Linked DNA regions of Homo sapiens. The protein of the gene in region 2 purifies or fractionates together with the protein of the main gene of each other region. This does not show direct contact. Each region holds a gene or a part of one and is shown on either strand. Other genes may lie near its edges.

Region 1 (3,647 bases), on a different chromosome or scaffold from region 2:
AGAGGCCTTTCCTGCACACAAGGTCGTCCTGGCTGCCTGCAGCGACTACTTCAGGTAAGTGCTGGCCCCAGGCAGCTGGAAGGGGCGGCTGCCTGTTGGGACAGGGACAGGGCAGATGGCACCCACTTTCTAAAGGGGGCCTGTCTCAGCGCTACCCAGGGACAGCTTCGAGGGAGAACGGCTGGTACCGGCTGCTCTTTTTTTTTTTTTGAGATGGAGTCTCGCGCTGTTGCCCAGGCTGGAGTGCAGTGGCACAATCTCGGCTCACTGCAACCTCCGCCTCCTGGGTTCAAGCAGTTCTCCTGCCTCAGCCTCCCGAGTAGCTGGGAGTACAGGCACCCGCCACCATGCCCAGCTAATTTTTTTTGTATTTTTTAGTAGAGACGGGGTTTCACCATGTTGGCCAGGCTGGTATTGAACTCCTGACTTCGTGATCTGCCTGCCTTGGCCTCCCAAAGTGCTGAGATTATAGGCGTGAGCCACCGCTCCGGGCCCCTTCTGATTTTAGAGAGAGGTTTAATGTCCAGTAAACCTGCAGGTTTCCCGGAGTTTGCATCTTACTCTCTTTGGGCAGAACATGCCTGGAGGGACAGAGATGGCCTGTGGGCACCCACTCACTTCTACCCTGCATGCAGGGTGGCAGGGCTTGGCCAGGTTTTTGATCTGTTTTGTTTTTTTTTTTTTTGAGACAAAGTCTCGCTGTGTCGCCCAGGCTGGAGTGCAGTAGCACAATCTTGGCTCATTGCAACCTCCGCCTCCCGGGTTCAAGCGATTCTCCTGCCTCAGCCTCCCGAGTAGCTGGGACTACAGGCGCATGCCACCACACCTGGCTAATTTTTTGTATTTTTAGTAGAGACGGGGTTTCACCATGTTAGCCAGGATGGTCTTGATTTCCTGACCTCATGAGCCACCTGCCTCAGCCTCCCAAAGTGCTGGGATTACAGGCGTGAGCCACTGCGCCCAGCCCAATCTGTCTTTACTTGACGCCTGCTGTATGCCAGGCACTATTCTAGTCCTTGGGATGCAGCAGGGATGACAGTGAAATGGGCACAAGCCCCTGCCCTCAGGGCATCCCCTCAGGACACCTGGAGCAGGACAGCTGGGGGACTGGAGGGGCATCGAGGGCCGCAGAGACCCTGTGTCTGCCAACACCATGTCCTGGGCTCTGTCTGAGGCCCAGATGAGTTCTCCTCCCTGTCTCCCTGAGCTGTGGGCACTTCCCCAACGTGACAGAAGAGGCCATGGCGGGCACTGTCTGTCTGTCCCTGTGCCGTGGCCGGGCCGGAAGTGAGAGCACCACAGAGCAGGGCTGTGGGGTGGGGGGTGCTTTCTCCTCGCCAGCTGGGGGCTGTTGCAGGGCTGAGTGGTCTCCCTCCCTGGGTGACCAGCAGGTGAGCCTCCTTCCTGCCAGGTGGTGACCCCGCCAGAGAGAGCTGGGCCGCCCTGGGGAGGCTCCCAGGCCCCAGCCCAGGTGTGCCGCTCAGCCACACATTCCCCGAGGCCCGGGCCGCCTGCCCCATGGGCTCAATGAGGCTGTTGTGGGGGCCGCAGCAGCCGAGCCAACTGGGGCGCCGCTTCTATTTTTATTCTGGATTTGGGGACGGGTGGGCCAGCCCAGCCAGCAATGCCCTTTAAAGGCTCCCCTGTGCTGGCACTGCAGCCAGCGAGACCTTAAAAGGCAAAGCTCCCTCCTGTCGCCTGCGACCGCCTCTGCCTTCATCGCATCATGCCCGAGGGCCAGCGTGGACCCGTGGGGACAAGCGGGGCAGGGTCTGGGGAGCTGGCAGCGTACTTACTGCTCCTGGACCGCTCAGAGATGCTGAAGAGCTGCTTGTTGGGCAGATGTCAGTGGGCGGCCCCGAGATAGTGCCCTGGCAGCTGTCCTTGCCCCTGTAGCCCTGAGCCTGGCTCACAGGAGGTGCAAGACTAGGGGACAGGCCTCTGTGGGTCAAATGCACAAGGGATGTTCCCTCCTCCTCGGACGGCCATCAGGGGAGGTGCACTGGCAGGAGTGAGAGTTACTATGCCATGCCATTGCGCCTCCTGGAAGGAACCGCCCATTCCCCTGGAGCTGGGGTGCTCTCCCCTCTTCTGCTGGGGAACACCCTAAACGCTGTAGGGGAACTGTGACCTAGAACCGTGTGCCTCCCCGCTGCCCTCCCTCACGGGGGCCTGTGTCCCCTCCCACTCTCATGTTCTGCCTCGCAGAGCACAGCAGTACAAGGGCGGAGCTGGGGTCTCAATGGAGGCTGGGGACGTAGCTGTTGGGTGGGAGGTGCTTCCCCGACCACCTGAGCCTGTCTCTGGAGACAGCAGTCACCCCAGCACAGCCTCCTGGTGGGGGCTCCATTCCTGGGGACCCTCATTACCTTCCCCTCTTCACATGATGGTTGTTGAGACTCAGGCTGGGCATATCAGAGCTGCCTGCTTAGGTCAGTGAACAAGGTGAGGGTTGAACTGTGGTGCATGGCACCTCCAGAGCACTGGCCTTGCAGTTCCTGAGCTCAGGTGTCAAGTGGGGCTGCAGATCTGTCCCCAGAGCCACAGGGTGTGTTCTCATCCTGCACTGCCATACCTGGCCCCTCTAACCGCACCCCCGACAGGCACATTGTGGGTGAGGCTGACCCGGGCCACCGCTCCTGCAGCTCCAACACGATCTAGTCATGAAGGGGCAGGGGCAGGGTCCTCTGCAGAGGGGCCAAGCAGGGAGTTGCTATTTATAGGAAGATGCATGGCTTGGGTGGATTCAAAATCTTTTTTTTTTTTTGCATGTTTTTTTTGTTTGTTTGAGACAGAGTCTCACTCTTATTGTCCAGGCTGCAGTGCAGCATGATCTCGGCTCACTGCAACCTCCAGGTTGGTCTTGAACTCCTGACATCAGGTGATCCACCCACCTCGGCCTCCCAAAGTGCTAGGATTACAGGCGTGAGCCACTGTGCCTGGCCTTTGCATGTTTTTGTTTGTTTGTTTGTTTGTTTGTTTTTGTGACTGAGTCTCACTCTGTCACCCAGGCTGGAGTGCAGTGCCAGTGGTCTCGATCTCCTGATCTCATGATCCACCCGCCTGGGCTTCCCAAAGTGCTGGGATTACAGGCATGAGCCACCGCGCCCGGCCCCTTTGCATGTTTTTAATGAGCATTCCGCCTACTTTCCTCTTGCTGGCTGTGCCCTGTGTTCTGTGTCCCCAGGCTACTGTTCCCCAGGCCAGATCATTCCTGGCTGGCCAAAACACCCCTCAGCCACTGCCAGCCACACGTTGTGTTTCTGCCCTTCAGGGCCATGTTCACCGGCGGCATGCGGGAGGCAAGCCAGGACGTCATCGAGCTGAAGGGCGTGTCGGCCCGTGGCCTGCGGCACATCATCGACTTCGCCTACAGCGCCGAGGTGACACTGGACCTGGACTGCGTGCAGGACGTGCTGGGCGCGGCCGTGTTCTTGCAGATGCTGCCCGTGGTGGAGCTGTGCGAGGAGTTCCTGAAGGCGGCCATGAGCGTGGAGACCTGCCTCAACATCGGCCAGATGGCCACCACCTTCAGCCTGGCCTCGCTGCGAGAGTCGGTGGATGCCTTCACCTTCCGGCACTTCCTGCAGATCGCCGAGGAGGAGGATTTCCTGCGCCTGCCACTGGAGCGCCTGGTCTTCTTCCTG
Region 2 (4,205 bases):
ATGTTGGCCAAGCTGGTCTTGAACTCCCTACCTCGGGTGATCCGCCTGCCTCAGCCTCCCAAAGTGCTGGGATTACAGATGTGAGCCACTGTGCCCGGCCAGAAAACTACTTCTTTGGAGTCCACAGGCAACTGGGTACAAATTCCAGGTTTATCACTTAACTGGTAAACTTGACCAAGTCTAAGCTTCATTTGTTTAACAAGAATAACTATTGGCTTCATTGGGAGGTTATAACCATTAAATACTAAGTTGAGCTATATGAACCTGCTGTTTCTGGAGGCAAAAACAGTCTAACATCATGGGGAGTGGGGGGAATCTACCAAAATGGTAAGGATTCCTTTGTGCTTTTGATTTTTGAAAACTTCAGCCCTAAATTCTTCCTTTTCACCTCTCTTGCCCAAGGCATAGTGCCACCCAACGGTCTGCGTGGCCCTGGGAGCTCGGAGGTTGCACACTGTTGACCTACCCTATTGAAGCCAGTAAGTTAGTCAAGGGACAGCCTCATGAGATTTGGGAGTTCTACAAGGATCTGGAGTTTCTTTCCAGCCAGTCACAAGCACATCCCTTGGGGGCTAGAGAAGTCAAGAGCCCTGACACATAGCCTACCACACACAGACTCAGAGTGCACTTTCACCCTCCTTTTCAACGCCTATTTGCCTCACTGTACAATGAGTAGTGACATTGGCTCTATTTTTAAATGTGGAAACTGAGGCCTAGAGAGGGTCAGGTCCTGTCCAATGTCACAGGCACCAATTGGTGTTGGAAAGAAGGTGGGGTTTGGCGTCAGATGGATCAGCGCAAGCACTGCCTCTAGATGTGTCACCTTCACAAGGTTCTTTAACTTCTGGGGCCTGTTTCTTTTGCTAGAAAAGGTCGCTGATAACGCTTGTCCTCATATGACTCTTCAACCCAAGTCTGCTCTCTGGCAGCCCCACATGTGGGGAGACCCCCAAGGAGACACTGCGAGAAGCACAGAGTGCGGCGCGCCAGGACTCAAACCGTGGGCACCCGACCGACGCACACGCGCAGCCCCACGACAGTATCAGTATTTAATTTCCACTAGAGACAGAACTAAGCCTAACCATCACCAGGCTCAAGCCGCCTACCCCAAAACCGAGAACGGAACTGCCCGGTCCCCCCGAAAAGAAGGGCGGAACATTTCGGCCAAGTCCTCAGACTACCGAACCGGAGAGCTCCGAAAGGGGACTACCTGCGCCTGCGCACCGCCATCTTGTTAAAAGAGCCCGCCTCTCCCTCGGCCGGTCACTCTTTCGCCACGGGCGGGGTTGCACCATCCGGCAGGGCGGGGCCCGGCCATGGCGACCGCGGAGCCCAGCGGGCGCGCGTTGCGGTTGTCTACCCCGGGACCCCGGCCCAGCGGGGCTCGGGACCGCGCGCCGGGAGCTGCGGGGCCACCCTCCGGGCAGATCGGTAATAGAGCCCTCCGTCTGGGGGAGCGCACCCCCGCGGCCGTGGAAAAGCGGGGGCCATACATGGTGACGCGCGCACCCTCCATTCAAGCCAAGCTGCGTGAGTGTGGCCCGATGGTCGGGGGAGGTTTCTCCCTGGGCGGGCGGCCGCGTCCCCAGGGCGGGTTCCGGAGCTCCGCTGGGCCTCGGCCCCGGAGGGAAGGGGTTAGCTGCAGCCTGCTCTCGCCCCTCAAAATCCGTTCGGAAAGAGCGGCCTCCCAGCCTTCGGGAGACGCGGCGGAGTGGGGAAGACCCGGCTGACCCGGGTCCTTTAACTTCCAGAGAAGCACCGGGACCTGGCCAAGGCCGTTCTGCGGAGAAAAGGCATGCTGGGGGCCTCGCCGAACCGCCCAGACTCTTCAGGGAAAAGGTCTCAGCAGGCGCCACCTCCTCTGTGCCAGCAGCTTTAGAGAAGGCTTTAATCCCCAGGACGGAGGCAGGGTGCTCTGGTTTAAGGCCGAGCTAGCGATTCCCCTGATGCAACCTGTCAGGTTCACTATCTTTAAAATGGGAAGAGGAACAATCTCTCTTTTCCTTTAAGGATGTGATAGGATCAGATAAAGGGCTTCGGAATAAGGGAGTTCTGTGAGTGCACAGGCTCATTCACTATCATTCTCCTCCTCTGTTAGGGAGGAGAATGGTGGCTGGAGTCCCCAGCAATGAGGACGAAGAGCAGTGTGGGAATGGCTAGACCTGTTTTTGTTTGTTTGTTTTTAACAGAATAGTAAACTCGGAGCTGCATAGAACCTTATTCAGTGCCTCCTTTTACAGATGAGGGTTGAAACTCGGAGAAGTGAAGGTTAACCCTAACCTTTTACCCAAAGACTTGCAGTTTTTGTGTCCTCTGATTAAATAAGTGGGGAGAGGGTGCTTTTCCTAGATCAGGCAAGGGGAGGTGTGCTTTTTTCCAAGACCTATGGGAGGAGTAGAATACAGGCCGGGCGTGGTGGCTCACGACTGTAATTCCAGCACTTTGGGAAGCCGAGGCGGGTGGATCACTTGAAGTCAGGAGTTCGAGACCAGCCTGGCCAACATGGTGAAAGCCCGTCTCTATTAAAAATACAAAATTAGCTGGGCACGCCTGTAGTCCCAGCTACTCAAGAGGCTGAGGCAGGAAAATCACTTGAGCATGGTAGGCGGAGATTGCAGTGAGCCGAGATCGCGCCACTGCACTGCAGCCTGGGTGACAGGGCCAGACTCTGTCTCCAAAAAAAGAAAAAAAGAATGAGAACATACACATTCTGAGGCACTGTAGCCAGGTACATGGAGCTGCAGGCAGTGGTGGCTGTGACCAGGGAGAAGGCAAGTCAGTAGTGCAGTCAATTCTTTCTCCTTCAGGGCGAGGACTCTGCCTATCCCTGTGAAATGCCTATGCTTTCATCTATGTTTGGTCTCTTCTCCCCCGTCTCCCCTCAGGTCAGTGAAGTTTAACAAGGGCTATACTGCTCTTAGCCAGAGTCCAGATGAAAACCTGGTGTCCCTCGACTCTGACAGGTGAGTGCTCCCCTTGGAAATACCCCCTTGGGAAGCAACTTGGCTGGGACTGAAGATCGCCTGATGCCTTTGCTTGTTCCCTGTCTCCTCCAAGGCCCTTCATGTACATTCCAGGGCCGTTCTCTTCTGAACAATATCCCTTCCCAGGATGGCTTGGTTAGAAGACTCATAGGTAATCGTGCTGCTCTAGAATTCGGAGCACCAATGTCCGGGGGATCATCCTGCCCTGTTATGTTTGCATTGTTAGTGAGAGTGACCCTGTCCCTGCCAGAACCAATTGAGGGAACCAGTATTATTCAAGGCCTGTTCGGACTTGAGTTCTGTTGTGTGTGGCCTTTGCTTCAAAAGTCTTCCAGATGCCCTTGCATGCTCTCCGCCTGATGATTTACAGCTGTGCACCACAGGTACCTCCCGGAACTGACTGTTTTCCTCTTCTCCTAGTGATGGGGAGCTGGGATCCAGATACTCCTCCGGGTATTCATCTGCAGAGGCAAGTCCAGAACACCTTTCTGTGCAGGGCCAGGCTGCAGGCAGCATTACCACCACTGCCAAATGCTTGTTTGGTGCCCGCTGTGAGCACAGCACTGTGCCAGACTTCTGGTCTGTTCTACGATCTTCCACTCTGCCCTCTTCCCCCGGTGGAGGTATAGGTGACCAAGGAGGGCTGTTGAGAATCGAGGAGACCATTTAGACTCAGGGCTAGAAATGATCTCAGAAGTCATGTAAGCTGGGCATGGTGGTACATGCCTGTAGTCCCAGCTACTAGGGAGGCTGAGGCAGGAGGATTGCTTGAGCCCAGGAGTTCCAAGACCAGCCTGGACAATATAGCAAGACCCTGTCTCTAAAATAAGACTCTAAAATAAAAGTCTTCTAGGCCACAGCTTACAAAAGGAACCCTTTTGATAGATCCCAGCTAAGTGTTTGCTAGTCTGTGCTTACTTGAATGCTTTTTGTAATTGGGTACTGACCACCTCCAAGGAGCCTTGCTACCCACCCTTCCCTCAACACACACAGAATTTTTTCTTTGAGTAGCTGTTAGAGAAATCTTCCTTATTAATCTGAATGGGTCCATTGGTCCTTGACCTGCTTTCCAGTGTCACACAGCAACTCTAGTTTCTCTGAGATCAGCATTTCCGTCTCTCCCCTGCCCATCTTTCACCAAGCTTGCTTTCTTCCAGACCAAACAACTTCTGTTTCTTCAGTTGTTCCATCTATGAAAACTCAGGCTAAAACACTCCTGGG
Region 3 (3,647 bases), on a different chromosome or scaffold from region 2:
GAGCCACTTGCCCAACAGTGTGGTCTATTTCTAGTTCCTAGATGGGTATACCATAGGAGCAGCTGAAAGAGAGTTGGGATAGGTTCAAAGAAAGAAGCCTCTAGCATCTTGGTTTTATGTAATGACTCTCCTTGGCCTGAAGATTAAAAACTCCCAGAAGAATATGGCTTTTAATTAGTATTAGGAACTATATATTGAAAGCTAAGTAGCCGCATATTAACAGGGGTGATAATATCAACAAGCAAGGACTGACTTTGAAAAACGGAGCTACTTCCTTTGAGAAAAGAAGACTGACCAAGTTAATGACCTGTTATTTGTGAAGAAAATATTTAAGAAAACATTATCTTATACAGGGATTTTCTAAGAAACAACCAAGTCACTACTTGCACCTTCTAGATATTTCCAGATACCGCAAATTTAAAATAGTATAATAACATGAAAATAATGTGTGTAGGTTGACTGAGGAGGCCTAAAGAACAATTGTACACTAAGGACACTTATGCCTTAACTGCTTTTAAAAGTCCAATTATTAAAATATATTGGAAAACCTATGCAGTTCATGATCATGCGACATAGTCCAACAATCTAGAAAATCTGGTCTTAGAAAAAAATATCATTGTAACAACAAAGAAAAAAAAACTTTGGGTAGAAAAGATCAGGAAAAAGACCATGTCACTAACAAGAAAGGGTTTTATAAACAGGAAAGTATAAAAGCTGAGAACAGTTATTCTATTCTCTGATAAATAGCTTAGTCTCAAATACATTAAACTATCTTTTATTTCTTAGAATATTGAAAAATAAAGATTCTGAGAATTACTCTGAACTTATCCAGAGCCAATGCCAATATTTTGAACTTTCCCAGCTCTATGGAGCCTGGAATTGGTCAACTACAAGGACATTATTTATTTATTTATTTATTTATTTATTTATTTATTTATTTATTTATTGTGTTCAAGCAATCCTGCTTCAGCCTCCCTAACAGCTAGGACTACAGGCATGAGCCACATCTGGCTTTCTTTCTTTCTTTCTTCCTTTCTGTCTTTCTGTCTTTTTTGTATTTTTTATTTATTTACTTATTTATTTATATTATTATACTTTAAGTTCTGGGGTACATGTGCAGAACGTGCTGTTTTGTTACATAAGTATACACGTGCCATGGTGGTTTGCTGCACCCATCAACCTGTCACCTACATTAGGTATTTCTCCTAATGCTATCCCTCCCCTAGCCCCCCAACCCCAGACAGGCCCTGGTGTGTGATGTTCCCCTCCCTGTGACAGACTCTATTTATAATAGAGAATAAAATAATTGAAAACAAGGCCAAACAATAATGGTAATGACAAATATATGTCACAACATAAAATGTGGACTTCCTGCCTTTATTTTTGGAAAAATTATACTATCCCAATTTTATCTGAAATAATAAAATTTTACCTTTTTGGGTTAATTTACATAGCCAAAGTATTCTACATCAAAGTACATTTATGACCAATTTTATACTGGGAAGACAAAAAGGTGACCATCAAATAAAGCTTACCAGATGGGCTTATGGAAAAGAAAACTATCTGATATTACGTCAACAGAATTATTTTTAAAACAGTCATAGATCATAATATTCACAGTGAACAAACTTTGGATAATGTTGAACTTTGTACATTTAATCTATAAAGAAAATTATCTTTGTGGCCACTAATAGGTAACATATTTTGTAAAAGAAGAAACAATGAAAGTTTTCTGTAATGAAGGATTGTAACCTGTTCAGTAAAATATCATATGGCCTTTTAAAAGCAGAAAATGAGAAAACATGCCAAACTTCTATCCAAGACCTTATTATAATTTAAATGAGCTAAGTATACTCTTTAGATGAACCTTCAAGATGAAGACCATATATACTGCACAGGTGAAATATGCTACAATATACTGATGTATTTGTAACGTACAATTTGTTCCCTTGCCAACGATATATGCCCAGATAAGGCATAAAGATGGTCTTCAATATTTTCTCAGAAAAATAGTTTTAAAATAAAACCCTAACTACATTTTTATCTGATTTTACAGGACTGCTTATTTTATGATTTGATAAGAATTTCTGAGTGAAGAAATTTGTCTCTATGCTTAATATAAATGCACTTACGCAGTTCACCTGCTGCATTTCGCCCACCAACTGCATACAGATATCCTTTGAGGGCACTTAGGTGGAAGAAGGTGCGCTTTTCATTTAAAGATGCAACTTGCATCCATTTATTGTATCGAGGATCAAATCTGAAGACTGTATCAACTGCCGTTTTTCCTTTTGTATCATAATTACTCTGTCCGCCAACCACATAGAGAAAATTTCCAATGACGGCGATGCCATGCTGGTACCTTGGGGCATCCATGGGGGCTAACGATTTCCACTCATGGGCCTTTTCATCATACATGCGCAATTCCTTACTGACAACCAGCTGCTGCCTCAGCACTCCTCCTAGTGTAACCAAGTGAGTGGTGTCAGACCTAATGGCAGTCCTGTCTGACTGCATAACTGGCTGCATATATGGCATCATTTGGTAATTGCTGGCTTCCAAAAGCAAATTCACACAAGTATTGTCAGTTCTCATGAAATCCACCGTTTGCACGTAATTAATGAGCTCCTGTGGTGTCATCAGTGGAAATCGTATGTTCTTCATTAATTTTGCAGCAAAGTCCATCCGAGGCTCTTCCAGGCGAAGCCAACGACAGGTAGCCTTAAAGAGCTCAAGTTCAGTACAGTGCTTAAGGCTATTACTGGAAAGCACGAAGGCAAGACGCTCAAAAGGGAGTTTCAAGAACTCCCCTGTGCTCAGCAATGCAGGAAAATTCTTCAAGACGAAACTGTTAACGTATTTATCCACTTCGGTTAGATTGTAGGTGTTGGCAATCCGTCCAACTTCAACACAGTTGTCTAAAGTGACCTATTAAGCCAATTAAAAAAAATTAAAACATGACTACTTTCATGGCAATCACATCTTGATAGCACAAATACCTGTTCTAGAATAAGAGTAAATTATGCTTTTAATGTTCAAATAGATACAAATAGGATTCTTATCTAAATGTATCAATGATCTACAAACAGATAATTTGCAAACCACCTTTACTTAATCCACTAGAAGGCTGACTAAAAGAAAATGATCAAAGTCAGTAAGTTAGAAGCTACTCTAAGAAACAATGTTATAACTGGAATATGGCCAAACCAGTTACTCTTCTCTCCTCAAAAATGTATCCCACCCCCACCCCCAAAATACTGATAAAATTCCTGCCAGATGGAAACTTGGGAAAATAGAAGGTTGTTCTATTATGATTCATCTCAATCCACTTCTTAGTCATTATTCTTAAAAATACCACACAGCTAGCAGATCCATGAACAGAAAAGCTCTAATACCCAAACCCTAGATTTCCCTTTCACGTAAATAGGCATCACTCATTACTATCATTCATTTTGGTTCCTTCAAAGTTATCACTCATAATGAAAATAATTTAATAAGATAATTATCCCTAGGGCAAATTAATTTTCAACATTATTTATCTGGAAATATAAGCAAGGAAATGTCTTTCTTAAGGGCAGAGGGGTATATCTACAACAAATCTCTCATGTAAATGAGATTTTGGTATCTGTGATGACTGCTTCCATCTG

What was found.
Region 1: the proteins of FAM219B (region 2) and KLHL26 purify together in Homo sapiens (affinity purification with mass spectrometry; one large-scale study listed by BioGRID and IntAct). This does not show direct contact.
Region 3: the proteins of FAM219B (region 2) and KLHL13 purify together in Homo sapiens (affinity purification with mass spectrometry; one large-scale study listed by BioGRID and IntAct). This does not show direct contact.

What each region holds. Positions count from the first base shown.
Region 1 is NC_000019.10:18,664,390-18,668,036, forward strand, and holds part of KLHL26 (kelch-like protein 26), read left to right. Parts: coding exon 1-54; intron 55-3,011; coding exon of another isoform or gene 3,012-3,054; exon of another isoform or gene 3,055-3,187; coding exon of another isoform or gene 3,188-3,274; coding exon 3,275-3,647. UniProt on the Homo sapiens protein: May play a role in endo(sarco)plasmic reticulum (ER/SR) mitochondrial signaling. May be part of the ubiquitin-proteasome system (UPS) and affect ubiquitination and degradation of target substrates in cardiomyocytes.
Region 2 is NC_000015.10:74,903,912-74,908,116, reverse strand, and holds the start of FAM219B (protein FAM219B), read left to right. Parts: upstream 1-1,265; 5' UTR 1,266-1,316; coding exon 1,317-1,530; intron 1,531-1,751; coding exon 1,752-1,839; intron 1,840-2,885; coding exon 2,886-2,963; intron 2,964-3,057; exon of another isoform or gene 3,058-3,135; intron 3,136-3,404; coding exon 3,405-3,453; intron 3,454-4,205.
Region 3 is NC_000023.11:117,907,169-117,910,815, forward strand, and holds part of KLHL13 (kelch-like protein 13), read right to left. Parts: intron 2,929-3,647; coding exon 2,133-2,928; intron 1-2,132. UniProt on the Homo sapiens protein: Substrate-specific adapter of a BCR (BTB-CUL3-RBX1) E3 ubiquitin-protein ligase complex required for mitotic progression and cytokinesis.